Linked DNA regions of Homo sapiens. Each later gene encodes a partner of the first gene's protein in a complex. Each region holds a gene or a part of one and is shown in the gene's direction. Other genes may lie near its edges.

What was found.
Region 2: TCTN1 (region 1) and AHI1 share a complex: the UniProt entries of both Homo sapiens proteins name them as parts of the tectonic-like complex.
Region 3: TCTN1 (region 1) and TMEM67 share a complex: the UniProt entries of both Homo sapiens proteins name them as parts of the tectonic-like complex.
Region 4: TCTN1 (region 1) and MKS1 share a complex: the UniProt entries of both Homo sapiens proteins name them as parts of the tectonic-like complex.

What each region holds. Positions count from the first base shown.
Region 1 is NC_000012.12:110,616,938-110,624,219, forward strand, and holds part of TCTN1 (tectonic-1 isoform 1 precursor), read left to right. Parts: intron 1-2,898; coding exon 2,899-3,019; intron 3,020-7,282. UniProt on the Homo sapiens protein: Component of the tectonic-like complex, a complex localized at the transition zone of primary cilia and acting as a barrier that prevents diffusion of transmembrane proteins between the cilia and plasma membranes.
Region 2 is NC_000006.12:135,459,574-135,466,855, reverse strand, and holds part of AHI1 (jouberin), read left to right. Parts: intron 1-482; coding exon 483-1,042; intron 1,043-3,549; coding exon 3,550-3,731; intron 3,732-7,282. UniProt on the Homo sapiens protein: Involved in vesicle trafficking and required for ciliogenesis, formation of primary non-motile cilium, and recruitment of RAB8A to the basal body of primary cilium.
Region 3 is NC_000008.11:93,749,991-93,758,003, forward strand, and holds the start of TMEM67 (meckelin isoform 1 precursor), read left to right. Parts: upstream 1-4,903; 5' UTR 4,904-4,924; coding exon 4,925-5,147; intron 5,148-5,787; coding exon 5,788-5,876; intron 5,877-8,013. UniProt on the Homo sapiens protein: Required for ciliary structure and function. Part of the tectonic-like complex which is required for tissue-specific ciliogenesis and may regulate ciliary membrane composition.
Region 4 is NC_000017.11:58,216,256-58,224,415, reverse strand, and holds the start of MKS1 (tectonic-like complex member MKS1), read left to right. Parts: upstream 1-5,160; 5' UTR 5,161-5,185; coding exon 5,186-5,265; intron 5,266-5,686; coding exon 5,687-5,796; intron 5,797-7,670; coding exon of another isoform or gene 7,671-7,679; coding exon 7,680-7,750; intron 7,751-8,160. UniProt on the Homo sapiens protein: Component of the tectonic-like complex, a complex localized at the transition zone of primary cilia and acting as a barrier that prevents diffusion of transmembrane proteins between the cilia and plasma membranes.

The sequences.
Region 1 (7,282 bases):
AGTGCTGCTTAGACCTGACAGGGGCTCAACAGCTACTTGGTGGATGATTAAGTACACTCGCATCCTGGGTAGAAACCTTTTTCCTAAGTGGAGTTATTAAACACTATTGCTTCGTCCTTAGTAGTCTTACAGCTGCCTATAAGGGCTTTAAGTTTTGAAAACAAAGCAAGATAGTAATTTTAAACATACAGGGAACCTAAAGCACTTTTAATTTTTTACATTAGCGTGCATAAGTTGTGTCATTTTACTAGGCACATAGAAGAGTTCTCAACTAGAGAGAAGCACTGTAAACTTTAGGGGGAAAGCTTTTGTGTCTTAGACTAAGAAATCATGGCATATTAACAAAACCTTCCCCTTCACCTCACACATTTTTTTTGCAGAGTGCATTATACCTTTTACGGGGTACTATTTTTTTTTTTTTAATTGCCCAGGCTGGAATGCAGTGGCGCAGTCTCAGCTCACTGCAACCTCCACCTCCCAGGTTCAAGCGATTCTCCTGCCTCAGCCTCCCAAGTAGCTGGGATTACAGCCGCGCGCCACCATGCCTGGCTAATTTTTTTGGTATTTTTAGTAGAGATGGGGTTTTACCACGTTGGCCAGGCTGGTCTCAAACTCCTAACCTCAGGGGATCCACTCTTCTCAGCCTTCCAGAGTGCTAGGATACAGGCGTGAGCTATGGGATACATTTTTCTTTTCTCTTTTTCTTTCTTTTTTTTTTTTTGAGATGGAATCTTGCCCTGTCACCCAGGCTGGAGTGCAGTGGCACGATATCGGCTCACTGCAAACTCTGCCTCCTGGGTTCAGGCTATTCTTCTGCCTCAGCCTCCTGAGTAGCTGGGACTACGGGTGTGTGCCACCATGCCCGACTAATTTTTGTATTTTCAGTAGAGACGGGGTTTTACCATGTCGGCCAGGCTGGTCTGGACCTCCTGACCTCGTGATCCACCTGCCTCAGCCTCCCAAAGTGCTGGGATTACAGGCTTGAGCCACTGCATCCGGCCGCTGTGGGGTACATTTTTCTAAAGCTCCTTTTTATCGTGAAATAATTCATACGTACAAATAAGAATGTTGGGTGGACACTAGCAGCATTTGCTTCAGATTCCTTTTTTGTTAATTTTGTTTTTTGGCTTGAGATCTTTTTTTTTTTTTTTTTGAGATGGAGTCTCACTCTGTCATCCAGGCTGGAGTGCAGTGGTGTGATCTCAGTTTACTGCAACCTCTGCCTTCTGGGTTGAAACGATTCTCCTGCCTCAGCCTCCCTGAGTAGCTGGGATTACAGGCGCCCACCACCATACCTGGCTAATTTTTGAATTTTTTTTTTGAGATGGAGTCTCGCTCTGTCGCCCAGGCTGGAATGCAGTGACGCGATCTCGGCTCACTGCAAACCCCGCCTCCTGGGTTCACGCCATTCTCCCGCCTCAGCCTCCCCAGTAGCTGGGACTACAGGTGCCCGCCACCACACCCAGCTAGTTTTTATATTGTTAGTAGAGACGGGGTTTCACCGTGTTAGCCAGGATGGTCTCAATCTCCTGACCTTGTGATCCGCCTGCCTTGGCCTCCCAAAGTGCTGGGATTACAGGCATGAACCACCGCGCCCAGCCTAATTTTTGTATTTTTAATAGAGACAGGGTTTAACCATGTTGGCCAGGGCAGTCTCAAACTCCTGACCTCAAGTGATCTGCCCGCCTCCCAAAGTGCAGGAATTACAGATGTGAGCCACCGTGCCTGGTTTGAAATCTTCTTTTGAAAAAGAAAACGTTACAGATAAGATTGAAGGTTGATCTTACTTCTTCCCTTCCAGCAATAATTGCAACTATAAATTCATTCTCTATTTTTTAAAAGGGTTTTCTTGTCCTTATTTGACAGAATAAGATAGAGAATTAAAAATCCAGATAATCATCTTTGTTGCAAAGCGGCAAAGAAAAATCATCCTTATTAATGATTAAAAGTTGACCAGGAGTGGTGGCTCACACCTGTAATCCCAGCACTTTGGGTGGCTAAGGCTGGCAGATCACTTGAGGTCAGGAGTTTGAGACCAGCCTGGCCAACATGGTGAAACCCCGTCCCTAATAAAAATACAAAAAAAAAAAAAAAGTTGGGCGTGGTAGTGCATGCCTTTAATCCCAGCTACTCAGGAGGCTGAGGCAGGAGAATAGCTTGAACCCAGGAGGTGGAGGTTGCAGTGAGCCAAGATTGCACCATTGCACTCCAGCCTGGGCAACAAGAGCCGAAACTCCTTTAAAAAATAAATAAATAAATAAAATAATTAAAAGTTGTGAGGTGGGGGAGATTCCTACCCCGCCCTCATACCTTATTGTCTAAATCACCAAAGACATTCTGAGCACCTGAGCCGGTATGATTCTTGGCCAAGGGTCTGTGAATATGAGTTCAGCTTTAAAGCAGCAGGTTATACGTGAAGAGGGGGCAAGATTGAAAAGTCTCTTTCCTGAAGGTTTAAGTGGGCCCTTCCTCTGAATCGTAATCTCTAGAGGAGGGGCTTAAGGACTTTGGAGTTTTAAACTGGTGGTTCTTATGGTCAGGCAAATGGTTTAGGGGTGCTTGTTCTTAAACTTGTCTAATTATAAGCATCACCTGGAAAGTTTCTGAAAACTGCAAATGCCTGGGTTTCATATTCAGCTTACGAAATCAGCATCTCTGTAGGCAAAGCACTAACAGAACTTTCCAAGCGAGTCAGATCATTAGCCACTTTGGGGAAACCTCTGATTGTGGGATGCTCAAACTGACTCATTTCCACTTCACAAATTTCCCCCAAAGTGCAATAGGAAAAATAAAATGGATCTTTTTTATGAAATTGACTTATGGTACACTGTGGTGGCAGGGGGCAGTCACCACCTGCTGATGGTGATGTTCTGGATCCTACCCCTCTTTTTTCTGCAGTTGCTGTTCTCTGTGTCTGTGACTTATCCCCAGCACAGTGTGACATCAACTGCTGCTGTGATCCCGACTGCAGCTCCGTGGATTTCAGTGTCTTTTCTGCCTGCTCAGTTCCAGTTGTCACGTAAGTTTACGTATGACACATGCAATTTTGAAAAAATTTGACCAGGATAATACAATTTGGAGAAAGGGAAAACTTTCCCAGGCTTAAAAACCCAAACCTGATTTCCAGTGTTTTACGTCGTTCTGAAGCCATACCGTCCAAACAAATATGTAAAAAAGTAGCTATCCCTGGCAGGGCGCAGTGGCTCACGCCTGTAATCCCAGCACTTTGGGAGGCTGAGGTGGGTGGATCACGAGGTCAGGAGATTGGGACCATTCTGGCTAACACGGTGAAACCCCGTCTCTACTAAAAATCCAAAAAAATTAGCCGGGCATGTTGGCGGGCACCTGTGGTCCCAGCTACTCGGGAGGCTGAGGCAGGAGAATGGCGTGAACCCGGGAGGCAGAGCTTGCAGTGAGTGGAGATTGCGCTACTGCACTCTAGCCTGGGTGACAGAGCGAGACTCAGTCTCAAAAAAAAAAAAAGTAGCTATCCCTTATTTGCATTCAGCCAGGTGACTGTGCAGGCAAAAGAGAAGAGAGAATATACATTAAAATAATGTAATGAAACCTCTGTGTTTGAAGATTGAATTACATTTCAATTTGAGTTGTAGACAGTGGTCACATTTTTTGTATCAGTGAATTAGTATAGCCTAGGGTGAAAAGTGCATTTTAATTTCACAGCTTTTGTTGTGGACATAGTATTTGTAACAAAAAATTAGATAAGAAATCTGTACTTTTCTGATATGTAAATCTACCAGGAATTCTCACAGTTCGCATTGTATAGAACAATGAAAAATGACATTTCCAGCTGATTATAAGGTAAATAAATAATCTGTTCTGAATGATCTCTTATAATTGAGGTTTCAAGGCTTCTTTTTTTTTTTTTTTTTTATGAGATGGAGTCTCGCTCTGTTGCCCAGGCTGGAGTGCAGTGGTGTGATAGTGGCTCACTGCAACCACCGCCTCCTGGCTTCAAGCAATTCTCCTGTCTCAGCCTCCTGAGTAGCTGGGACTACAGGTGCACGCCACGATGCCTGGCGTATTTTTAGTAGAGGTGGGGTTTCACCATATTGGTCAGGCTGCTCTCGAACTCCTGACCTCAGGTGATCCGCCCTCCTTGGCCTCCCAAAGTGCCGGGATTTCAGGTGTAAGCCAACGCGCCCAGCTTCAAGGCTTTTTGAAAAACTAGGAGCACTTAGAAGAGGCTCATTAATTCAGGATGGGACCAACTTAGTATTCAGAGATAGCTAATTTAAATTTAGCCTTATAGCAAGTTTTAGCAATTGATACTTGATAGGTGAACCCTTTTAAGAAGTACAATGGGTTTTTCCTGTGAGAAACTATTTTATTGACCAATGGGATTTTGAGCCTATTTCTAGTATTGTAAAAATGCTCAGAGAACAGGGCAATGTAGTCAGATTAATTTTCTGGCTACCTGGCCTGTAGCATGTTTCAGTATTTGTTGAAAGTCATTCTGTTTTCCTCCCTTTAGTAAATACAGGAGCCTGAAAGTGACATTTTTGCTCCAACTTGGGGCTATTTTTTTTTTTTTTGAGACAGAGTCTTGCTCTGTTGCCCAGGCTGGAGTGCAGTGCCTCCATCTCGGCTCACTGCAACCTCTGCCTGCTGGCTTCAAGCAATTTTCCTGCCTCAGCCTCCCAACGAGCTGGGACTACAGGCGTGTGCCACCATGCCCAGCTAATTTTTTGTATTTTTAGTAGAGACAGGGTTTCACCGTGTTAGCCAGGCTGGTCTTGAACTTCTGACCTCGTGATCCGCCCACCTCGGCCTCCCAAAGTGCTGGGATTACAGGCGTGAGCCACTGCGCCTAACCTGGAAGATCTCTTTTCTCCTTAACCATTAGTACCTAGTAGAGCTCCTGCCACATAGTGGGCCCTCGTTAAGAATGAGTTGAATTGGCTGGGCATGGTGTCTCACGCCTGTAATCCCAGCACTTTGGGAGGCTGAGGCATGTAGATCACTTGAGGTCAGGAGTTTGAGACCAGCCTGGCCAAGATAGTGAAACCCCGTGTCTACTAAAAATACAAAAATCAGCTGGGCGTGGTGGTGGGTGCCTGTAATCCCAGCTACTCAGGGGGCTGAGGTGGGAGAATCGCTTGAACCTGGGAGGCAGAGGTTGCAGGAGCCAAGATCGCACCATTGCACTCTAGCCCGGGCAACAAGAGCGAAACTCCATAAAAAAAAATAATAATAATAATAATGAGTTGAATGGATGAATGAATTTCTCCCTTCCACCTCTAACTGATTTCCTAGTGTCCCTTGTTGACTTCCTCTACCATTAGTCTTTTAGGCCGACACCAGGCCAAAAACCTGGAGGCTCCCCTGACCCTTGCCTCTTCCTTTCCTTTTCCTGTCTCAGCAGTCTTTCCTTTCTCCCAACCTTTCTTGAGTACCTCCTGAATGCCAGCACCAGGGACATAAAGATGAGTTAGGCACTCTCCTGCCTTCAAAGAGCTTACCGTCGAGTAAGGGAGACAGAGGAGTGGATGGCAGTTTCTACATCAAGCACGATGAGAAGGCAGAGGAATGGCATCTAACTCAGCCCCACTAAGGAATGCTCCCCAGAAAACAGGAGCTGAGCTGGGTCCTGAAGGACACGTGGAAGATGGTCAGCATGGACTGAGGGGAAGGGCATTCCAGGCAGAGGGAACTGCGTGGACAGAGATGGGGGGATGTGGGATGGCCTGCTTAACTGCAGGTAACTCAGTGTGGCCAGAAGAGGGGTGGGGTGAGAGGAGTGTAGGAAAGAGATCAGGGGTCAGGTCCCCAGGGGCCTTGTGTATATGCTAAGGGGTTTGGACTCTGTCCTGAAGTCCACAGGGCCTGGGTTGTAAGAGGATCAGATTCCCATCTTATGTAATTCTGCAGCATCATATGCAGTGGATCACAAGGCCAAGCCTGGTGGCAGAGAACCAAGTAAAAAGCTATTGCAGATGCGGATTAACGGTTTCCCTCCCCATCCTCCCCAAAAGCTGTGACAGTGGGGCTAGGGAGAAGTATCTAGATCTGATGATGATACTGAAATACTGCACAGGATTGGGGAGGTGGCTGACTGGAGGGGAGTAAGGAATCCCATTCTGTGGAGCCTTCCATCACTCTAGCCCTCGTGGTCGTCCATCCCTGCTCCTGCTTTATGAGCTCACACCTCATCCTGTCAAGCACTCACTAAAAGACCTTCAGAAGTTCTCATTATCTATAGGCTTCTTAGCCTGGATTCAGATTCATTCCCACCTTCTTTCAGAGCCTATCACCTGCTACCAGCCATCTCAAATCCACTCCAGCCCAACCTTGGTACTCAGAGTTTCCCAAAGACCATGAGTCGTTACCCAGCCTTGGCCATTGCCGTTCTTGCACTTGGATTTGCTTCCCATTCCTACTGTCTGTCTGATTTCTACTTATCCTTTAAGGCCCAGTAAAAACGGAATGATAATATCCAGTCTTGGCAAGGGTACAGGGAAATAGGCACTCTTACTACAGTGTTGGTGAGAATGTATATTGTGCCCTTCTAGAGGGCAATCTGGGAGTGTGTCTCAGAAGCTTTAAATAATGTTACCTGCCTTTTGGTTTAGCAGTTCCAGTTCAGGAAACATATCCTAAGGAAACAACTGGAGACAGTCATAAAGATGTATGTATAAGGTTGTCATTATAGCATTACATATAATTGGGGAAAATTAGAAACCTAAACCTAAACCAACGATCATAGCTCGCTGTAACCTTGCTCCTGGGCTCAAGCAGTCCTCCTACCTCAGCCTCCCAAGTAGTTAGAACTATAAGCATCTGCCAGCATGCCGGGCTAATTTTTTCTTTGTTTTCTGTAGAGATCGGGGTCTGTGTTGCCCAGGCTGGTCTTGAACTCCTGGCCTCAAGTGATCCTCCCCAGCCTCCCAAAATGCTGGGATTACAGGCATGAGCCACGGTGCTTGGGCTGTACCATATCCATATCTATATTGGTTAAACAAATTGGGGTATTAATAGGCTGGTATACGATGATGAAGCCACTTATAATATTGTAAGTGCATATTAGGCATTATATATTAAGTGAGAAAAGCCTTAAAACAGTATGTAGAATATGGTCCCATTTTTATTATGACTATCTCTATACTATTATCTGTCTGTCCAGCTATCTGTCTATTTTTTTTTTTTTTTAGAGACAAAATCTCACTTTGTGGCCCAGGCTGGTCTTGAAATCCTGGCTTCAAGTGATCCTCCTGCCATGGCCTCCCAAAGTACTGGCATTGTAGGCGTGAGCCACTGTGCCCAG
Region 2 (7,282 bases), on another chromosome or scaffold:
ACTTAGATTTACTGCAGGGTGATCTTAGAGCTGTAGACTTTTGCTTTTAGAGTGTAATTATGAAGCAAAATAAATGACCCATGTATATTTCCTATTGGGTGACCTGAAATGTCACATTCAATGGCTCTTTTAGCAATTTCTCGAATATCTATTAGAGTGTAGATCATGAGGAAAATATGTATGAGGAAAATAGCATTTGAGATTTGAGCAATTAATTCACTTCTTATAGGTCCTTAAGTACTTTTTTCCCATGTCAATTAACTCATTTAATCTGAAGTTACATTCAGAGATTACTAATCAAATTCTGGAAGCATAAATTATGAGAGTACTCATATGCTCTAAAATAGTGTCACTATGTCCAGATGAAAAACTAAATAATCCTCCCAATAATTCCACATTGTCAAATATTAATTATTAGGTTTTTCTTTATATAACTAATCTATGTGTAACTGAAACTTTGTTATCATGTCTTCTTTTCCTAGCCCGACACTATTAGAAGCAATCTTCCCCATATTAAAGAAACTACAAGTGATGATGTAAGTGCTGCTAACACTAACAACCTGAAGAAGAGCACGAGAGTCACTAAAAACAAATTGAGGAACACACAGTTAGCAACTGAAAATCCTAATGGTGATGCTAGTGTAGAGGAAGACAAACAAGGAAAGCCAAATAAAAAGGTGATAAAGACGGTGCCCCAGTTGACTACACAAGACCTGAAACCGGAAACTCCTGAGAATAAGGTTGATTCTACACACCAGAAAACACATACAAAGCCACAGCCAGGCGTTGATCATCAGAAAAGTGAGAAGGCAAATGAGGGAAGAGAAGAGACTGATTTAGAAGAGGATGAAGAATTGATGCAAGCATATCAGTGCCATGTAACTGAAGAAATGGCAAAGGAGATTAAGAGGAAAATAAGAAAGAAACTGAAAGAACAGTTGACTTACTTTCCCTCAGATACTTTATTCCATGATGACAAACTAAGCAGTGAAAAAAGGAAAAAGAAAAAGGAAGTTCCAGTCTTCTCTAAAGCTGAAACAAGGTATTTTTGCATTGATAAATGTAAAATATCCTCTTAGAAAAACACTGTTATTTTCAGGTTTTGAATATTATCTGTGGTTTAACAAAGAAAATTCTTACGCTTTTATTTGGAGACATTGTCACTAAGATAAGAACAGCTAACTTTTACATAACACCTTACTATGTACTAGGTGCTTTACGAGAATTAACTCATTTATTTCTTATGACAATCTTATAAGGAAAAGTAATATTCTTCCTATCTTGCTGATGAGGAAATGGAAGTACAGAACTAGTAAGAGGCTGAGCCAGATCCTTGTCCCTACCCTGAACTACTCACTTACATCTGCTTTCAAAGTAATAGAAACCTAATTACTTCCCCTTTTTTGAGTTACAAATACCTGTTTGGATATATAAATATAACTTTTTTTCTTATACAGATAACATTAGCTCATTGTAGAAAAACTATTCAAAGATAATCACTATTGGCAATTTGGTATTCTAATCTTTTTCTCTATATGATGCTTATATATGTATGTACTTCTATATAGAGTGTGAGGTTAAGTGAACATACACATATTTATATGTTTTCTATTTGGAGAAAACAATAAGGTAAAAATGCTTTTTAACTGCTATAATTAACTTTGTTCCCCCCTGCAGTTCTCCTCTAGAGAAACAACTTGAGGTGGGAACATTTTATATGTGACTATTCTTTGGCATTCAGCATCAATTTCCCCTAAAGCCCTCAGCCAAAAATAATTCCCCTCTTTTCAAAAGCTAGGTGACCGGTGGTAATAAAGATACGGCAAACCAAGTTGCTGCAGGGACATGATAGTATATATTAGTTATCTGTTGCTCCATTAAAAAGATGATCCCAGAATTTAGCAGCTTAAGACAACAAGCATTTACTGTCTCAGAGTTTCTGTGGGCCAGCAATCTGAGAGTGACTTCACTGGGTGTCTCTGTCAATCACAGGTTGCAATCAGGATGTTAGCTGGGACTGAAGTCACCTCAAGCCTTGACTGGGGGAGGATCTGTCAAGTGACATAGCTGTTAGAAGGCCTTAGAAGATCCAGTTCTAAGCTCATTCATGTGGTTGTTGGTAGGCCTCAGGTCCTGACTGGCTTTGGGCCCGGTATACCAGTTCCTTGCCACATGGACTGTCTCCATATGGTCTACACACAACATGGCCACTTGCTTCCCCAGACCAAGGGCTCTGAGAGAGTGAGAGCAAGACAGAAGTCACAGTCTTTTTGGAACCTAATCTTATAAGTGGCATTCATTACTTTTATCATATTCTGTCTGTCAGAAGTAAGTCACTAGTCCAGCCCACACACAAAAGAAAGGGGATTACACAAAGACATGAATATGAAGAGGTGGGGATCAGTAAGGTCCATCTTAGAGGCTTCCTACCATAGTATACTATAAATCTTCCTTCTCATAGCTACCACCTCTGTGGTAGACTGGTAAGCCATAGTCAATATGAAATAGGGTTAGCTCATGAATTTTTAATAACACGTGACAGTGGCACGCAAAGGGTAGCTGTTCTCCTTAAAGAACAGGGTTTGGTGATGTGATCAAATAGAATGGCTTTCTGGAATGACTAATTTGAAATATTTCTCTAGTCTTACTTTCCTCAACCCATTTTTTTTTTGAAATATGACTAAAAATATTGGAAATTAATTTTTTATTATTTACATGCAGATTTTTTACTAGATACATTAAAATGTTAGTAGGCTGGTTTTTCTTTAAACTCAGTATGCTTCTGGGTTGCTACTTCTTACCATTTACTAGTTCATGTGATATAGATTTTAATTTTAGTAATAGCCTTCTGAAAATGTAGTGACTCACCAAGGAATTAATTTTTACCTAGAAATCCATGCCTGAGCAACATAGTGAAAGTCCATCTCTACAAAAATTACAAAAATTAGCCAGGTATGGTGCCTGTAGTCTCAGCTATTTGGGAGGCAGAAGTGGGAGGATTGCTGGAGCCTGGGAGGTTGAGGCAGCAGTGAGCTATGATTGTACCACTGCACTCCAACTTGGGCGACAGCGCGAAACCCAGTCTTAAAAAAAAAAGAAAAGAAAAAAGAGAAATCAAAAGTTGTGCATGTGAAGCCTCTTGAAGACGGAACAAACCTAGAATACTTTTTATACCTTTAAATAAGGTAATTTAAAAATTGGTTGATAAATCATTTACTTGGCAGCAGGGTGGGCATGCTTTGATAAGTCCTATGTAAAGAGAGATCAATTGCTCATAAAATATTAATACAATTTCCCTTTCCCCTGGGGTTTAGAGCTCAGTTTTAGTTGAATCGTGTAACTCCTCACGAAGTATAAAATACCACCTATGATACCTATTTGACACTTAACCATTTTAGTGTATAAGAAAATACATGCATCTCTCAAGAGACAATAATAGTGATTTTAGGATTATCTTTGCTCCTATTTACTGTTCACTCTGTTGCATCATGAATAATAATTATAATGATAATATATCTGTAATGGCTGATACTTGGATTATATTTGTAGTACATTGACCATCTCTGGTGACACAGTTGAAGGTGAACAAAAGAAAGAATCTTCAGTTAGATCAGTTTCTTCAGATTCTCATCAAGATGATGAAATAAGCTCAATGGAACAAAGCACAGAAGACAGCATGCAAGATGATACAAAACCTAAACCAAAAAAAACAAAAAAGAAGACTAAAGCAGGTTTGCTATACAAATTAAATGAAAAATTGTGTATGTTGGTAGAAATAACTTGATTCTAGGAATTTTAGCCCTTTAAAACTGATGGGTATACTTGAAAATAATTCAATATAGGATATTTGGTACTTGTTCTTGAATTCATCTAGATTAAAGCACACATGTATTTGTAGCTGTAGGTCTCTGATGAGTTTGTATCACTTGAGTCTTCTCTGATTTTTTTTATTTTTGAGATGGTGTCTTACTCTGTCTCCCAGGCTGGAATGCAGTGGCACGATCTCGGCTCATTGCAACCTCCACCTCCCGGGTTAAAGCGATTCTCCTGCCTCGGCCTCCTGAGTAGCTGGGATTGCAGATGCATGCCACCATACCCGGCTAATTTTTGTATTGTTAGTAGAGACGGGGTTTCACCATGTTGGCCAAGCTGGTCTCGAACTCATGACCTCAAGTGATCCACCTGCCTCAGCCTCCCAAAATGCTGGGGTTACAGGCATGAGCCACCATGCCTGACCTTCTCTGATTCTTGTCATACTTTAAATTCAACTCTAAAATGATACTGACTTTGTAGTTGCTATTGGGTCATAGAGGATTTCTTCTTTAAACCATTGAGTTTACATCCTCTAAATGGTTAGGACTCAGTTGTTGAAAGCTATAAATGGTCAGCAGCCAATAAACATTTCTGATGTTAAGGCTGCATCCTGTCCAACATGGTATCCTCCCAATTCGTCAGCCTAATACCACTTCTTTCCTTTCTCAACTTTTCTCTTTGCCTTGTTGATTTCTGTCTTCTTCTTTTCTTGTTTGTTTTCTCTTATTTTTCTTTACATGTTCTTTTCTACTCATACATCCTTTTTTAGTCTTTCAGTTTCCATTTGATTGGCCAAAAATTGGGATTAAAATGGGCAATTTTAGATTTTATAGTACTTATTCATTAGAAGATGTAAGTGATGATGTTTTGTGGTTTCTATAATTAAAATTTTAAAATCTTTTGTTGAAGCATAATGTGTATATAGATATATATAGAAAAGCACTAAGCAGTATACTTGTTTTATGTGTTTCTATATATATAAAGCACTAAGCAGTATACTCATATACATATTTTTAAAGTTTTTTTCACAAACTGAACATACCTATAAAATCATTACCTAAATTTGGAAACAGAACATCATTAGCACCCAGAAAAATCACCTTCCCGTTAGTTGCCCTGTGGGAGTAACCACTACCTGGACATCTAACAGAGTTTATTTTTGCTTATTTTTATACTTTAATATGAATAGAATGATAAATACTGTGCTCCTTGTGCCTGACTTTTTTTACTCAATGTTAATTTTGTAAGATTTATACTACTGTTGCTTGCATACAGTTGAGCTTATTCATTCTTAATTCTGTTTTTGTATTATTTAGATATCCATTGTGTGAATATACCACAGTTAATTTGCCTATTTTATTGATGGTCATTTGAGTTGTTTCTAGTTTTAGGCAATTATAAGTAAAGCGGTAATTCACATTGCAGTCACGTATTTGGTAAGCACATGCATACCTTTATCTTGGGCATATTGTTAGGAGTAGAATTGCTGTCATAGATTATGTATATTTTTTGCTTTAATAATTACTTCCAGTTTTCCAAAGTTGGTTTACCAGTTGACACTAGCAGTGTTTGAGAGTTCCAGTCACTCCACATCTTTACCAACATGTAATACTGTTTTTTAACGTTTTAGTCATTCTTAGGAGTGACTAAATTTTCCTCATTCTTCAGGAATGTATAGTGATATTCATTTTGGTTTTAATTTTATTTCCATGGTAACTATTGAAGTTGAGTGTTTTCATGTTTATTAACTACTTAGATTTTGACATTTGTAAATATATTCAAGTTGTCTGCATTTTTTAAAACACAGAATTGTCTTTTTCTAATTGATTTGTAGTGATAGGTTTATATACCTCAATATGAGATTATTCTCAGATATAAATACCTACCCACATTTATATCGCAAATGTCGTCCTACTCTGGTTTGATTATTTCTCTCTCATTGGTGTCTTTTGAAAAACAGAAATTTTTGTATTGTCCAGTTTATCCATTTTTTTCCTTTGATGGTAAGTGCTGTGATTTAAGAAATCTTTCCTAAGTTCTGAAGATATTTTTCTAAAAGTTTTATTCTAAAAGTTTTACTGTTTCTGTTTTACTTTCACATTTAGATATGCAGTTCATCAGGAATTGGTTTATGTTTATGATAGGAAGCAGTGATCAAGATATCCATGTGAATATATATTATGATTGACCCAGTACCATTTACTGAAGAGAGTGTCTTTTTCCCTCTGTGTTGCAGTGTCACTTTTCCCATAAATAACATGACTGTGTTACATGTGGATCAGTTTTTGTAGTCTCTATTCTTTTAAATTAGACAGTTTGTACCAACACTACCATGTCTAAATACTGTAGCTTTTTAATAGGTCTTGCTATTTAGTATTATACTCTAGGTTTTTCCTTCTTCATCTGCATTGTCTAGGCTATTCTTTACTTTGCATTTCTGTATGGATTTTAGAAGAGCTTCTCCATTCTCCCTCTTCCTTTTTACCCTCATTCTGTCTTGCAAGCTGTGATTTTGATCTAGACTGGGTGAATCTAAAGAGTCACAGCATAACAACTCTCTAAAGAGACTTGACATTTTTACACAGTATTGATTCTCAGGCTATGAATTTGGTATGCACTTCCATTTATTTGCATCTTATTTAATATATCCCAGCAATATACATTTCAGCAGAATCTCTCCTTAGATTTATTCCTGGGATTTGATGTTTCTTAATGATATTATAAATGGCATTTAAAAAATTTTTGTTTTGTATTTGTTGCTGGTACATATATGTAGAAATGTATTTAAAATTTTTTAACATTGTGTCCATTGATTTGCTAAATTCACTTATTGCAAGAGTTTATTTATTTATTTATTTTTGAGACAGGGTCTTGCCCTGTCACTCAGGCTGGAGTGCAGTGGCGTGATCTCAGCTCACTGCAACTTATACTTCCCAGGTTCAAGCGATCTTCCCACCTCAGTCTTCCAAGTAGCTGGGACTACAGGCATGCACCACCATTCTTGGCTAATTTTTGTAGAGACAAGGTCTCACTACATTTTCCAGGCTAGTCTCAAACTCCTGGGCTCAAGCAGTTCTCCCACCTCAGTCTCCCAGAGTGCTGGGATTACAGATGTGAGCTATCGCGGCCCACAGAGTTTATTCTTACATTGTTTGGATTTTTCTACATATGCAATCATGTAATACGTTAATAACGATAGTTTTATCGCTTCTTTTTCAGTCCTTATGCCTTATCATTTTGCTTGCCTTGATACAAATCAAGATTTAATCTCTTTATTATCAATCTTTTTTTTTTTTTTTTTTACTTCTGTCAGCTATTTGATATACTGTAGTTTTTGAGGGATGTGTCTATTTCATCCAAATTTTGCATTTCTATAGCATCTGAAAGGCTGTCCCATGTTTTCATTCATGGTATTGGCAGTTTGTTTTCTCTCAATTTCTTGATCAGCCTTAGGATTTTAAATTTATGA
Region 3 (8,013 bases), on another chromosome or scaffold:
ACTCCTGACCTCAGGTGATCCACCTGCTTTGGCCTGCCAAAGTGCTGGATTACAGGCGTGAGCCACCGCGCCTGGCCACCCACTTTTGTATGTATGTAAATGGCAAAAGGTCCCAAGATTTAGGAGGAAAGCCTTTTATACAAAACATAACTTTGAAGAAACAGATTATGCAACAGAGGGAAACTTTAAAACACCACTAGTAATGTATTCTAGGAAATAAGATATTGCAGCATGGAAGAATTCAAGAATGCCATAATTAAGCTATAGCCAGAAAACAAAAGAGAGCTCTTAGAAATTAAATTTATAATAGAAGAAATGAAAAGTTCAATTCAATGTTTGACAGATACGCGCAGGAAAATCTTCCAGAAAGTAGAACCAAACAAAACAAAATGAAAAATGAAGCCTGGGCGCGGTGGCTCACGCTTGTAATCCTTGCACTTTGGTAGGCCGAGATGGGTGGATCACCAGAGGTCGGGAGTTTGAGACCAGCCTGACCAACATGGAGAAACTCCGACTCCACTAAAAATAACAAAATTAGCCCTGCGTGGTGGCACATGCCTGTAATCCCAGCTACTCGGGAGGCTGAGGCAGGAGAATCACTTGAACCCAGGAGGTGGAGGTTGCAGTGAGCAGAGATCGTGCCATTGCACTCCAGCCTGGGCAACAAGAGCAAAAAAACTCCGACACACACACACACACACACACACACACACACACGCCGGGCGCGGTGGCTCACGCCTGTAATCCTAGCACTTTGGGAGGCCGAGGCGGGCAGATCACGAAGTCAGAAGATTGACACCATCCTGGCTAATACGGTGAAACCCCGTCTCTACTAAAAACACAAAAAATTAGCCGGGCGAGGTGGCGGGCTCCTGTAGTCCCAGCTACTCCGGAGGCTGAAGCAGGATAATGGCGTGAACCCGGGAGGCGGAGCTTGCAGTGAGCGGAGATCCCGCCTCCCGCCACTGTACTCCAGCCTGGGCGACAGAGCGAGACTCCGTCTCAAAAAAAAAAAAAAAGAAAAAAGAAAAGAAAAATGAAAACATAATCTGAGAAAATTAGAGGAACAGTCCAGGAAGTCTAGTATCTGAAAAATAGGGTGTCCAGAAGAAAAAAAAAACGGAGAGAAAGTCTTCAAAGGAATAATTAGTAGAAGAGATCATTTCCCAGTGTTAAAGGACATGAGTTTCTTTGCTGAATTGCAAAGTTACAACAGGTGTTCCACACAAAAGATGACAATGAAACATGCCCAGACACATCACTGTAAAATTAAGAAAAATGAGAAGGTGGGGCACAGAGAGGAACATCCTGAAGACTTCAAGAAAGTAAAAAACAAGTTACACACAAAAGATTAACAAATCAAAAGGGCACTAAGTGTCTGGAGATTGGGAATGAACACAGGGTTCACCACACAAAGTGCCCCAGATGTAAGATCTGAACCTCACTAATTCCCCTTTCTCACCACAACCTCCACTTCTGTTTTTCACCTTCTTTGTAATATTTTAATTCATTAATCTCATCTTGAACTTACTTGCCTTTAGCTTTTCTTTATTCCTGCCCAGAAAAGCACATCCAGAGATTCAAAGGCAACAATAAAAAGCAGGGCTTAAGAGTGTGGGCTCTGCATTATCCAAAGCAAACTTGTCACAGAGAAAACCTCAAAATCAGGGTTCAGCCTGAGTGGCCATGTGGGTTCTCAGCTTCATGCAGGAAGGAATTCAAGAGCAATCTGACAGAATAAAGTGAAAGCAAGTTTGTTAAGAAAGTAAAGGAATAAAGAGTGGCTACTTCATAGGCAGAGCAATGGCAAGGACTGCTAGACTGAGTATATTTATGGTTATTCCTTGATCATATACTAAACAAGGGGTGGATTATTCATGAGTTTTCCAGGAAAAAGGTGGGGAATTCCTGGAACGGAGCGTCCTCCCTTGTTAGACCATGTAGGGTAACTTCTCTAAGTGGGCATGGCAAGGGGCAAACTGTCAAGGTGCTGGTGGGAGTGTCTTTTAGCATGTTAATCCATTGTAATTAGCATATAATGAGCAGTGAGGATGGCCAGAGGTCACTTTGGTCACCATCTTGGTTTTAGCAGGTTTCAGTCCTCTTCTTTACCTATCCTGTTTTATCAGCCAGGTCTTTATGATCTTATCCTGTGAAATCAGTCCTGCCAACCTCCTATCTCAAACTAACACAGGAAAGAAATAAAATACTGTGTGTTCTCACTTATTAGTTGGAGCTAACATTGTGTACAGGTGGACACAAAGAAGGGAACAATAGATACTGGGTACTACTTGAGGGTGGAGGGTGAAAGGAGAGTATGGATCAAAAAACTACCTATTGGGTTCTATGCTTATCACATGGGTAAGGAAATAATCTGATCCCCAAACCCCCGAGACACTCAATTTACCTATATAACAAACCTGCACATGTACCTCTGAACCTAAATTAAAGTTTAAAACAACAACAACAACAACAAAAACCCGAAGAAAAGTATGGGCTCTGGTGTCAAATTACCAGGGTTAGAACCATGAATTAAGTGTGACCTTAGAAAGTCACTTATACTTTCTAAGCCTTGGTTATTTCATCTGTAAATTAAAGGTGATGATAACAGTCCCAATTTAGGATCAAATGAGATATTGCAATGCCGGACACATTAAAAGTGTCTCCATGGGACTAGCCCAAACTGAGCCTACTCTGTTGATAACAAAATGTCGTGTTACCTTTTAGATGTAACAGAGCCAAAAACTGAAAGTCATGTAGCCCAGTCATGTGCAATAGAAAAAGCCTGGACCTCTAACAACACCCAAAACCAGTGAATCCTTTCCTTGGAACCAAGACCGGGACATGACTGGAACCTGAACTTGGAACTCTTTCAAAAGTGTTGGGTCCATTTGCCTGGAGGATCAGGCCTAAAATCGGCCTCTACGTACCTTTTTCTAAATGGTCAAATTTCAAGTCCTCCATTCTGCCTGCCAAGACACATTCCTAAATTCTTCCCTTGGCTTTCCAAGCCCATAAGTTTACCCCAGACTCTAAATCAGGGAAACAGATTTGAATGCACTCCTATCTCCTTGCTGACCAGTTGTGCAAATAAAGACTTTTTTTCCTCAAAAGCTTGTGCCACATAGTATTGGCTTCTGTGCATGCATTGGATAGAGAGCTCATTTGCTTGATAACAAAAACAAGCTATTAATACCTATTATTTCTATTATTATCCATACCTCTAGCTCCCACCATGTTAAATATTCCTATAACTTTCATTTCTACCTTAAAATTTTCTTTATCCAATAAGTTTTCGCTTAGAAGCTATCTACCACAGGTATCTTCCTTTAATATCACAACCGTCTACCCAGCCACCCAAATCAGAAACCTGGAAGTTATCCTTGATTCTGTTTGTTTACTTCCTATGTCCAAATAATAAAATTCTTATAATTCTTCTTCCTGAATAGCTCCTTTATTCATCCTCTTCTGCCTCTCCCTTCCTCCATGGCTCCAATTTAGACTCTAGATTTCTACCTTAGCCTCGCAAGTGGTCTCTAACTCTAAACGTTTCCATATTTTTGTCCAGGATTTTTTTTTTTTTTTATATAGGGTCTCTGACATCCAGGCTGGAGTGCAGTGGCACGATCATAGCTTATTGCAGCCTTTGGGCTCATTGACCTCCTGGGCTTAAGTGGTTCTCCCGCCTCAGCCTTCCAAGCAACCGGGACCATAGGCATGTGCCACCCACCCAGCTAATTAAAATAAATTTTATTTGTAGAGGTGGAGTCTCACTATGTTGCCCAGGCTGGTCTTGAATTCCTGGGCTCAGACAATCCTTCCACTGTGGCCTCCCAAAATGTTAGGATTAGAGGTGTGAGCCACAGCACCAGGCTTAGATTCCTTTATTCACAAAAGGTGTAAAGGTGATCTCATTTTATATACATGTCAACTAAAGAAAAAAATCAGGCTTTTAAAGACTCAAAGTTAGTTTTATTCGGAGTCTTACTGAGGAATGCAACCCTGGAGAGTCTTTCAAAGAGTTTATGTTATACTGGTCCAAAGCAGCTGTTCTGCCCCCAGTTTCTACATCAAGGGATGGAGTTCTGCATGTGCTCAAAAGTTACATTAAACGTGCTCAGAAGTTACGTTGGAGCAAAATCTCATCAAAGTTTTGTTTGGAGACTACATCTGGTTATAGATTACAGAGGCATAATCATTAATCCTGTCACACGTTATCTTACGTACAGGAAGAGGCAAGAGCTAGGATCGCTGACTGTATCTTTTTAAAAAATGAAGTGATTCAAGCAACAGATGTGAAAACTTGTGCTCTATCCTACTTATTGTCTTCAGGGCATTCTTCTGGAGGACTGCGTTCAGTCACTGAGTCAGGGGCTTTGTGAAATTTCGCTGGCAACAGAATGAGCAAACATGGTTTCTTCCGTTTCGTACTTTGTCTCGCATACATGATTTCCTATGCTCAAACCTGGCAGGAAAGTTTTTTTATTTTTTCAGTCTTTGAGCTATAGTAATCCTTCACTGGGTTTTAAGTCAGTGGGGTTTTTTGACATCAAATTGTTAAACTACAAGTCATGTTTCCTTTAACGTGAAAATTACCTAGTCTGAATAAATTCTGATGTAACTATAACTCGACAAATTATGATATTTTCAACTTACGATGGGTTTATTGCGGGGAGGGGGCAGCCCTATCGTAAGTAGAGGAACTCTATACACGTTTGAAAATATCGCTGGGCTCCAGGGTTAACCGGTCTCTAACCCATTCTTTACTGGACCTGCCAACTTCGCGCAGGGTTGGTAACCTAGCAACCAAGCAACACGAGCAGTGACTTCCGGTACCCGGACTTGGGTTGTCCAATCAGCTCAGCGAAGCCGCCGCAGAGGCTGATGGGGGGCTGGAGGCTGTGAGGCTTCCAGCGTCGGTACCATGGCGACGCGCGGTGGGGCTGGGGTGGCAATGGCGGTTTGGTCCCTCTTATCCGCCCGGGCCGTGACCGCGTTCCTTCTGTTGTTCCTCCCTCGCTTCTTACAGGCCCAGACCTTCTCTTTCCCTTTCCAGCAGCCGGAGAAGTGCGACAACAACCAGTACTTTGATATCTCCGCCCTCTCGTGTGTTCCTTGTGGAGCTAACCAGAGGCAAGATGCCCGAGGTAAGACGGTTTGCGGTGGGCCCTGGCAAAAGTAACACTCCCGCCTTGGTCGGCCCCTAGTCCCCGTAAATGGAGTTTCACCATGTTGATCAGGCTAGTCTCGAACTTCTGACCTCAGGTGATCCACCCGCCTCCGCCTCCCAAAGTGCTGGGATTACAGGCGTGAGCCACCGCGCCTGGCCCGAATACATGTATATTGTTTAGTGACGTAGAAATGTAAAATTTCCAGCAGCAGTTAAGTAGTTTAATAGTTTAGTTATACTTGCACTTAAAATGGTAGCAGCATAATACCAGCTGTGTGCCAGTGTAAGACCTCTACGTATAATAACTAATTTTGTACTCATACTAACCCTGTGAGGTAGGTACCAATTTTTTTTCTCCATTTTATTGTAGAGGAAGCCAAGGCAGAGAGTTTAGTAACTTGTTCAAGGTCATGCAACTGAGTAGGATTACTACGATTGGAACTCAAGAAGTGTATTTCTGGATTTGAACCCAGGCAGTACTGCCTCCAGAATCCTGCTGTTAATCACTATACTGCTTCTCAAGATCTTCAGACTTATTAAAAGTTTCACTATCTGGGAACTTTATTTTTATTTATCAAGGATAAAATTGGCTTTTTTTTTTTTTTTTTTTTTTTTAGGAACTTCATGTGTATGTCTACCAGGATTTCAGATGATCTCTAATAATGGAGGACCTGCTATTATTTGTAAAAAGTGCCCAGAAAACATGGTGCGCATAATTTATTTTAAAATAACTTACCTGTAAAAAGTAGTAAGTTAAATATCTTTATTTTTCAAAATATAATTTAATGTTTAATGTTTCCCCACAGACTTTAAAATTACTATGCTAATTTTATTTTTACTAGAGTAAGTTTTGGGAGATCAGCGAAATTTCATGCAAACTTGGAGAAAACAGAAATGTATTTCTTTTAAAATCTGAAATCCAAAAACCACAAAGCTGTAAAAATTTAAGTTTTTGTTTTTACTCGTAGAATAACTCGGTTATGAAGAAAATTAGATGAATAAGGCATATATAGAGCAGTCTGGGATGTGTGCAATTTGGGATGTGTATATTCTTTTGACTGATGCAAGTGGAGTTGTCTTAGACCTACCATGTCAACAGTTTATATGATTATTGATGTTCATAATGATATCTAAGGTGTAATTATTTCATGAAATACCAATTGCATTAATAGATTAAATAATGTCTGTTTCTGTTTTGTTAGTAATTTCATTGTATCGTAATTTAAAAAAAATTAGTAAATAGTTACTATATATAATTCTCAACATAAATATATTTTTCAATCATGTTGGATAATTAAAAGTCTGTGTAACAGTTGTGACATTTACAGTAATGTTTCTTCTCATTGTCATATAAAAAATATTAATTCTGGGAATTTAATGTGAAGTTATCAATTGTCCCAATTTATAGCTATCTGTATTACTTGTAAGTCTGATTACCACTTTTTATATTACCATTTATTTTATATCTTTATAATAGATTATAATAGATTACCATTTATTTTATATCTTTGCAAATATTGATCCTAGCTGAATTACCCATGATAAAAAGCTGCTAATAAAAAGTGGTCTCGCAGCAGATTTCTTTTTCAGTGACATTGTTTAAGTTATTGTAATTTTTAAATTGTCCTGTATAGGCCAGGCACAGTGGCTCATGCCTGTAATCCCAGCAGTTTGGGAGGCTGAGCCTGGTGGATCATGAGCTCAGGAGTTTGAGACCAGCCTGGCCAATATGGTGAAACCCCATCTCTACTAAAAATACAAAAATGAGCTGGCTGTGGTGGCGCGTGCCTGTAGTCCCAGCTGCTTGGGAGGCTGAGGCAAGAGAATCGCTTGAACTCAGGAGGCAGAGGTTGCAGTAAGCCAAGATTGCACCATTGCACTCCAGCCTGGGTGACAGAGCGAGACTCTGTCTCAAAAAAATAAATAAAATATAAATAAATAAATAAATAAATAAATAAATAAATAAATAAATTGTCCTGTATAAATGTATTGCCAAATATAGGAGTATTTCTTGATAAATTCAGTCTTTTCAACCAAAATTTAAAATAATTTGTGGCATTATTTTTGTTCTTTATAAACTTTGGTTACATCTGTGTTTGTAATTATTGTGTTTTTTGCCCCAGGCTTTTCCTAAACCATATGATATAATAAGCCCAATTTTGAATGCTGTCATACTTTATCAAAAACCTTTACTAGGCCGGGCGCGGTGGCTCACGCCTGTAATCCCAGCACTTTGGGAGGCTGAGGCAGGTGGATCACGAGGTCAAGAGATCAAGACCATCCTGGCAAATGTGGTGAAACCCCATCTCTACTAAAAATACAAAAATTAGCTGGACGTGGTGGCACGTGCCTGTAGTCCCAGCTACTCGGGAGGCTGAGGCAGGAGAATTGTTTGAACCTGGGAGGCAGAGCTTGCAGTGAGCCGAGATTGTGCCACTGCACTCCAGCCTGGCAACAGAGCAAAGACTCTGTCTCAAAAAAAAAAAAACCTTTACTAGTACAAGCCATAAATGGATAGAAGAAAATATTCTCATAAATCAATTTTAACAACTATGTGTATAATTTATATATTTCATAAAATTTACCCATTTTGAATCATAAATGAATTTTTTTTTTTTTTGAAAGAGAGTATTACTGTTGCTCAGGCTGGAGTGCAGTGGCACGATCTCAGCTCACTGCAACCTCCACCTTTCTGGTTCAAGCCATTCTGGTGCCTCAGCCTCCCAAGTAGGATTATAGGCATACACCACCACGCCCAGCTAATTTTTGTATTTTTAGTAGAGACGAGGTTTCACCACATTGGCCAGGCTGGCCTCAAGCTTTGGCCTCAAGTGATCCACCCA
Region 4 (8,160 bases), on another chromosome or scaffold:
AGGTTTTTAACAAATGCAACAAGTTGTTTAGCATCACCACAGATTTAGAACGGTCTCATCACCCCTAAAATTCCCTCACACTGCCCTTTATACTCAATCCCTATCCCCACACCCAATCCTTGGCAACCACTGATCTATTTTCCATCTCTATAATTTTTCCTTTTTAAAGAATGCCATATCGAATATATTGTACAGTATATAGTCTTTTATGTCTGGTTTCTTTCACTGAGCATAATGATTTTGAGATTCATCCATGTGGTTTTATGTATCAGTAGTCACTTTGTTTTTATTATGGAGTAGTATTTCATTGTATAAATATTATACAAATTACACAATTTATTTAAACATTTACACATTGATGGACATTTGGACTGTTTCCCATTTTTACTATCATAAGTTGTTATACACATTTACATACAGGCCTTTTTGTGGACACATATTGTCATTTTTCTTGAGTAAATACTTAGGAGTGAGATTGCTGGATCATATGGTATGTAAATGTTTCACTTTATAAGAAATTTCCAGTTTCCCAAAGTGGCTGTACTATTTTGCATTCTGATAAGTAATTATGAGAGTTCCAGTTGCTCCACATCCTCACTAGCATTTAATATGGTCTAACTTTTAAATCTTAGCCATTGTAATAGGTGTGCTGTGGTATCTTTGTGTTTTTAATATGTAATGTTCTGATGATTAATGATATCAAGTATCTTTTCCTGGGTTAATGTCATTCACATATATTCTCTGGTAAGTTGTTCAAATCTTTTGACCATTTAAAAAATAAGATTGTTTGTATTATTATTACTGAGGTGTAAGACTATATATTCCAGATATAAGTCCTTTATCAGATAGGTGTTTTGCAAATATTTTTCAGTGTGTCTTGTCTTTTTATTTTCTTGACAGTGTCATTCGAAGAAAAGATGTTGTGCATTTTGATGACAATTGATTTTTTCTTCTATAGTTTGTACATTTTGAGTCCTAAGAAAATATTTACCCAACTCAGGATCTCAATGATCTGTCCCTATGTTTCTGTCTAGAAGTTTTATTGTTGTAACTATTACTTTTTAGGTCTATGATCCATTTTGCTTCAATTCATTAAATTGTGTAGGGTAAGGAGTTGAATTTTGTTCATCTTTGTATTTGTTTTGCTTATGGATTTATTATTCCAGCATTATTTGTTGAAAATGCTGTCCTTTCTCCATTGAATTACCTTGGGACCTTTGTCAAAAATTGATAGGCCATCTACGTACAGATCTATTTTGGACTCTTTTTTTTGTTTTTTGCTTTGAGACAGAGTCTTGCTGCGTCGCCAGGCTGGTGTGCAGTGGTGTGATCTCAGCTCACTGCAACCTCCACCTCCTGGGTTCAAGCGAGTCTCCTGCCTCAGCCTCTGGAGTAGCTGGGACTACAGGTGCATGCCGCCACGCCCAGTTAATTTTTGTATTTTTAGTAGAGACAGGGTTTCACCATGTTGGCAAGGATGGTTTCAATCTCCTAATCTCTTGATCTGCCCGCCTCAGCCTCCCAAAGTGCTGGGATTACAGGCGTGATCTTTTTCAAAATTCTTTTAACCATGTAACTCCTTTGCATTTCCATATAGATGTTAAGAGTCAGCTTGTCAATTCTACAAAGAAACCTGGTGGGATTTTTACTGAGATTTAGATCATCTTGAGGATAATTACCTTAATGATATAGATTTTTCCAATCCATGGACATGTTATAGTACTCTACTTTATCCAGGTCTTCATCTTACCAATGTTTTGACATTTTAAGTGTACAAGGCTTGCACATATTTTGTTAATTTTATGTTTTGTGCTTTTGGATGTTATTTTAAATGGCTGTGATTTTTAAAATTCAAGTTCAAATGGTTTGTTCCTAGTATATAGAAATACCATTGATTTTTGTATATTGACCTTGTATTCTATAACCCTATTAGTTCTGCTGGCATTTTTGTAGATTCTTTAGGATTGTTTAGGTTCATATTGTATGTAGATATACACAATTTTACTTCTTCCTTTTAAATTATGTTCACTGCAGCGTCGACCTCCTCGGCCCACATGATCCTCCCACCTCAGCCTCCCAAGTAGCTGGGGCCACAGGCATGCACCACCAAACCTGGCTAATTTTTAAATTTTTTATAAATAAAAAATATGTTGCCCCGGTGGGTCTAAACTCCTGGGTCTAAACTCCACTGTGTCTGGCCCAAGCCATTCTTGATATCATGGTACAAACTCCTTTGAGAATCTGATAAAAGCTATGAACTCTTTCTAGAAAAATCCCCCATTCAGAATTCTAGGGAAAGGATTCATAGACTTCTTGAATCCCACTCATGGATCTCAGTTTTAAGAATCCTGGTTCATGCAAATCAAGACCACGATGAGATACCATCTCACACCAGTCAGAATGGCAATTACTAAAACGTCAGGAAGCAATAGATGCTGGCGAGGCTGTGGAGAAATAGGAACACTTTTACACTGTTGGTGGGAATATAAATTAGTTCAACCATTGTGGAAGACAGTGTGCGGATTCCTCAAGGATCTAGAACCAGAAATATCATTTGACCCAGCAATCTCATTACTGGGTATATACCCAAAGAAATATAAGCCAGTCTACTATAAAGACACATGCACACGTATGTTTACTGGAGCACTAGTTACAATGTCAAAGACATGGTACCAACCCAAATGCCCATCAGTGATAGACTGGATAAAGAAAATGTGGTACATATACACCATGTAATACTATGCAGCCATAAAAAGGAATGAGATCATGTCCTTTGGAGGGACATGGATGAAGCTGGAAGCCATCATCCTCAGCAAACTAACACAGGAACAGAAAACCAAACACTGCATGTTGTCATTCATAAGTGGGAGTTGAACAATGAGAACACATGGACGCAGGGAGGGGAACACCACACACTGGGGCCTGTCGCAAAGTCTGGGGCAGGGGGAGGGAGAGCATTAGGACAAATAACTAATGCATTCAGGGCTTAAAATCTAGGTGATGGGTTGATAGGTGCAGCAAACCACCATGGCACATGTATACTTATGTAACAAACCTGCATGTTCTGTACATGTATTCCGGAATTTAAAGTAAAAAAAAAAAAAAGGACATTCTGACACATGCTACAATATGGATTAGGTATCTAAAACAGTCAAATTTCATAGAGAGAAAATGTAGAATGGTAGTTGCCAGGGGCTGGAAGAGGGGAATGAGGAGTTACTATTTAATGGGAACAGAGTTTCAATTTTCAAAAATAAGAAAGTAGTGGCGATGGATGGTGATGATGGTTGAAAAACAAGGTAAATGTACTTAAGACCAATAAGCTGAATATTTAAACATAAAAGGATCCTGATTCATAGAAATCAGTAAACAAAACATGAAAACTTAGTTTACCTATATAAAAATAATACTAATTATGGTTGCTTACACAAATAGCTTATATTTCCATAACGTGGTATAGAAACTATTTTGCATATAATTATGTCAGATTAACTTTGTTATAAGTTAGATTTGGTTATAAAATTAAACTAGAATCAGGCTCCACTTTATCAGCTGTTGTGCATGTGGCACAGATTGCCTACTCACAATTTTAAAAGGAAACATTGGAGAGACAATTTCTTAGGAGCTAGAAAGGTGCCTTTTGTTTTATGTTAAAATTATTTCCGGCCGGGCGCGGTGGCTCACGCCTGTAATCCCAGCACTTTGGGAGGCCGAGGCGGGCGGATCACGAGGTCAGGAGATCGAGACCATCCCGGCTAAAACGGTGAAACCCCGTCTCTACTAAAAATACAAAAAATTAGCCGGGCGTAGTGGCGGGCGCCTGTAGTCCCGGCTACTTGGGAGGCTGAGGCAGGAGAATGGCGTGAACCCGGGAGGCGGAGCTTGCAGTGAGCCGAGATCCCGCCACTGCACTCCAGCCTGGGCGACAGAGCGAGACTCCGTCTCAAAAAAAAAAAAAAAAAAATTATTATTTCCCAGGTTGGAAATGTGTGCGTTTATGGAATAAATTGGTAGGTGAGAGGCTGTGAGGCAAACTGGAAGGTGGTTAGGCTTCAAAAGACAGAAGAACTTGGGCTAGAATCCCAGTACTTTTACCACTTGCAAGCTAGCAAGTCCTTTAAACCCTGGCCTTCACGAACTTCATTTTTAAAGTGAATAAAAGTACCTTTTTGAGAGGCTTCTACAAGGATTTGGGACAATGCAAACAAAAGTGCTCAAGCTGCACTAGATCCTAAATAAATGGTGCTATTTATGGTGAGTCGGTGTTACACAACTAGTGGCTATGGCACCCAGAGCTTCCAATGCCAAATCATCAAACTGGCATGAGATTCCCGAGTTCAGGGGACAATTGCTTACTTTGTTGGAGGAGGACTAGATGTGAACAAGGCTGATAAATGTTGACATTCCCAAAGTGCCGGGACGCCAGACGTGAGGTTACAGCATGTCCTTCCTTTGCTAGTACAACGAAGCATGACTTGTGAATGTCACTTTTTTGGCTTTTCAGGAAGCCAGTGCAGTAACAAAGTGGCTTAATGATCCAAAACTAACATACACAAGGTAAGAATCAGTTCAATAATAACATCGTTTCCTTCCTTACTGTTGACTTCCTTGTTTTTTCTTTCTTTGCTCAGTGAATATCAACACAAAGACTAATAAATCTTCTGACACTTTTTTTGTCTTCCAAGAATATATTTTCTTGTCTGGCTAAGGGCCATCACCTTCCCTGACTCCTTTGGGAATAATGGGTGCATTTCTTACAGTCACATCACCCGATTTTCAGGCCAAAGTTTTCACGCGTTGGGTGGAAGGCAGTGTGGCATGGTGGAAAAGGTAGAGGGCGAAGACTCAGGCCACCTGGTCCCCGTCATCATTTCTGCATCTATCTGTCTATATGAAGTGGGCTGATGGCTGTGCCAGTTTCCTCATTTGCACAGCGCACGAGGTCCCGCTTTCGGTGAGCTTTTATCGCATACATGGTAAGCGGTGATCGGTAGGACCCCGGAGCCCTCTTGGGCGTTCGGCTTGGGCTGCACTTGCACTGTGTGGCCAACTGCGACCGTGGCGCCGTGACGGGAACGGCGGGTTGCGCGCGCAGCACCTCCGTCGCCTCCCGATCCAGCGTCTCCGTTGCCAGGAAAACAGAGCGGCGCGCTTTCCGGCGCAGTCGCGGCGCGTCGCAGCTGTCATGGCGGAGACCGTCTGGAGCACTGACACCGGGGAGGCAGTGTATCGCTCCCGGGACCCCGTGCGCAACTTGCGCCTCCGGTAGTCGCACCGCCCCAGCCCCGAGGCCCCATGCTTTTGTGTCCTTAGATCATTCCAACCTGAGCTCGGTGTTCTGAGGTCCCCACTTTCTGCTTACAATCCCGACCACTTCTCCGGGCTCCCCACTTCTTTCACTATCCGTACCCCCATCCACTCACAGCCTCTAAGAACCCCTTACAGACCTACCCAAGTCCATTCACGTCTTTGTTGCTCCCAGTTTCTCAAAGCCCTGTGCCCCCAGTACACCCTCTCCCCTTCATTCTTCCCCATAGGACGGCGCACCCACCCACCTCCTCTCCGTTGTCTGCACCCAGCACACCTTGGCAACCCTACCTCCTCTGTTTTGTTTCCCCCATCCTTGCTTTGTGTTCATCTCCTGGTTGCGTGTCTGGTAACGAATATTTTGGGCTTTTCTTGACAGAGTCCACCTGCAAAGAATCACATCAAGCAACTTTCTTCATTATCAGCCTGCTGCCGAGCTCGGGAAGGACCTCATAGACTTGGCCACTTTTAGGCCTCAGCCAACTGCCAGTGGGTGTTACGGTGGTGATGTGCCATCTAATACTAATTATGATACTAATCAGAATTGTGGCCAAATGTAGTGAGATAACAAATACTATACTTCTGATATGTTATAGAGTTGCCCGGCAACCTACATTCTATTTGTGGCTTTTTTTTTTTTTTTTTTTTTTTTTTTTTTTTTGAGACGGAGTCTTGCTCTTTCCCCCAGGCTGAAGTGCAGTGTCGCTATCTCCGCTCACTGCAAGCTCCGCCTCCCGGGTTCACGCGATTCTCCTGCCTCAGCCTCCCGAGTAGCTGGGACTACAGGCGCCCGCCACCACGCCCGGCTAATTTTTTGTATTTTCAGTAGAGGCGGGGTTTCACCGTGTTAGCCAGGATTGTCTCGATCTCCTGACCTCGTGATCCGCCCGCCTTGGCCTCCCAAAGTGCTGGGATTACAGGCGTGAGCCACCGCGCCCGTCCTATTTGTGGCATTTTTAAAAGAGAAAACGTGCCCCAAACCCTAAATACACATATAAACACTTTTAAAAACAATTTTTAAACTGGAGACTGCTTGCAAAATCTGCATATGATGTGCATGTATAGATCAACTGTGTTCTTGTGGTTTTCCTTATCTGGGAAACCAAAAGAATGAGGAGGAGAGGACAGAGTGGTTGTTGTCAGGTCACTAGTCTGTTTGCTTTTATTGTTTCTCTTTCTGTTCAGAGCTGTTCCTGGGCAAGAGTGTGGGCTCACAGGTTGTGAAACGTGTCTCTGAAAAAGGCATACCCAAGAGTGTATTAGATTAGATTTGTTTTCTTTGTTTTTGTTTTCGTTTTGTTTTGAGACAGAATCTCATTCTTCTGCTCAGGCTGGAGTGCAGTGGTATGATCATAGCTCACTGTAAACCTTGGTCTCCCAGGCTCAAGCCATCCTCCTGCCTCAGCCTCCCAACTAGCTGGGACTACAGACTCACACTCAGTTTATTTTTTTTTAAAGTTTTAGTAGAGAAAAGGTCTTGCTATGTTGTCCAGGCTGGTTTCAAATTCCTGGGCCCAAGTGATCCTCCCACCTTAGCCTCCCAAAATGTTGGGATTACAGGCGTGAGTCACTGCATTCAGCCAGATTTGGTTCTGTTAAAAAATCATTTATTTGCCTTCACTGTCCTCTCCTTACACTTGGTCTCCTAAATTTCAGTGTTTGTGATTCTACATATATGGCTTTAGAAATAGTAAAGATAAAAATGCCAGGGTTATTTTCTAGCAAATGCAGACAGTTGGGACTGAGGAAGGGCTGGCTATTCAGCTTATATCTAAATTTCAGTTTCTTATATCCAGTTAGATTAGATATTTCCTGGAGCGGGCTGAGCGCCGTGGCCCACGCCTGTAATCCCAGCACTTTGGGAGACCAAGGCAGGTGGATCACCTGAGGTCGGGAATTCAAGATCAGCCTGGCTAACATGGCAAAACTCCATCTCTACTGATAATACAAAAATTAGCTGGGTTGGTGGTGTGTGCCTGTAATCCCAGCTACTTGGGAGGCTGAGGCAGGAGAATCGCTTGAACCCAGGAAGAGGAGGTTGCAGTGAGCTGAAACAGTGCCACTGCACTCCAGCTTGGGTGACAGAGTGAGACTCCATCCCCCCCAGAAAAAAATTCCTGGGGGGTATTTTCTTTTATTCAAATTAGAGTCATGACTAAGACTTCCTGGGTTCTAATCTTGGCTTCTACTCATACTAACTCTCATATACAGCCTCTCTAGCATTTCTCTAGGTTGAGTGCTTACTAAATTGCTGAATTCCAGCTAGTTTTTGTGGCAAATATAAGAATAGGGACTTTGGTTATAATAAACCACAGAACAAGAAGTGGTGCTGGTTTGGCTCAAGCATTTGATTCACTCTGTTGTCTTTGGAGGTGGACACCGCCCAGAGGAAGACGAAGAGGAGGAGATTGTGATTGGGTGGCAGGAGAAGCTCTTTAGCCAGGTGAGCCAGTGTCTCTTGTCTTCTCTGTCTATTCCATCTGGTCTACCTCCACATGGCTGGTGATACATATTGCCAAAGTGATTTCCAGACAGGTTGTAACAGTTTATACTTTCCCCTGTTGTGTTTAAAGGGCATTGTAACATAGGGATTGCCACTACTCAGTTTTGTGATTCTGGGTGAGGAACTTTTCATCTCTGGGCTATATGCCATCTGTAATAGCAGACTTGGATTAGACTATCAGTCTGGTTCCTTTTAGCTCTAATGTTCTTGGTTCCCCTGCCATTCATTAGTTTAGTGTTGGTTATGAAAACATGTCAGATAGCATCAGTTCTGTAGAACTGATTTGATTAAACAGTTACAGAAGCAAAAGTTTGATGTATTATAATGATGTACACATCTCTGTTTCCTTA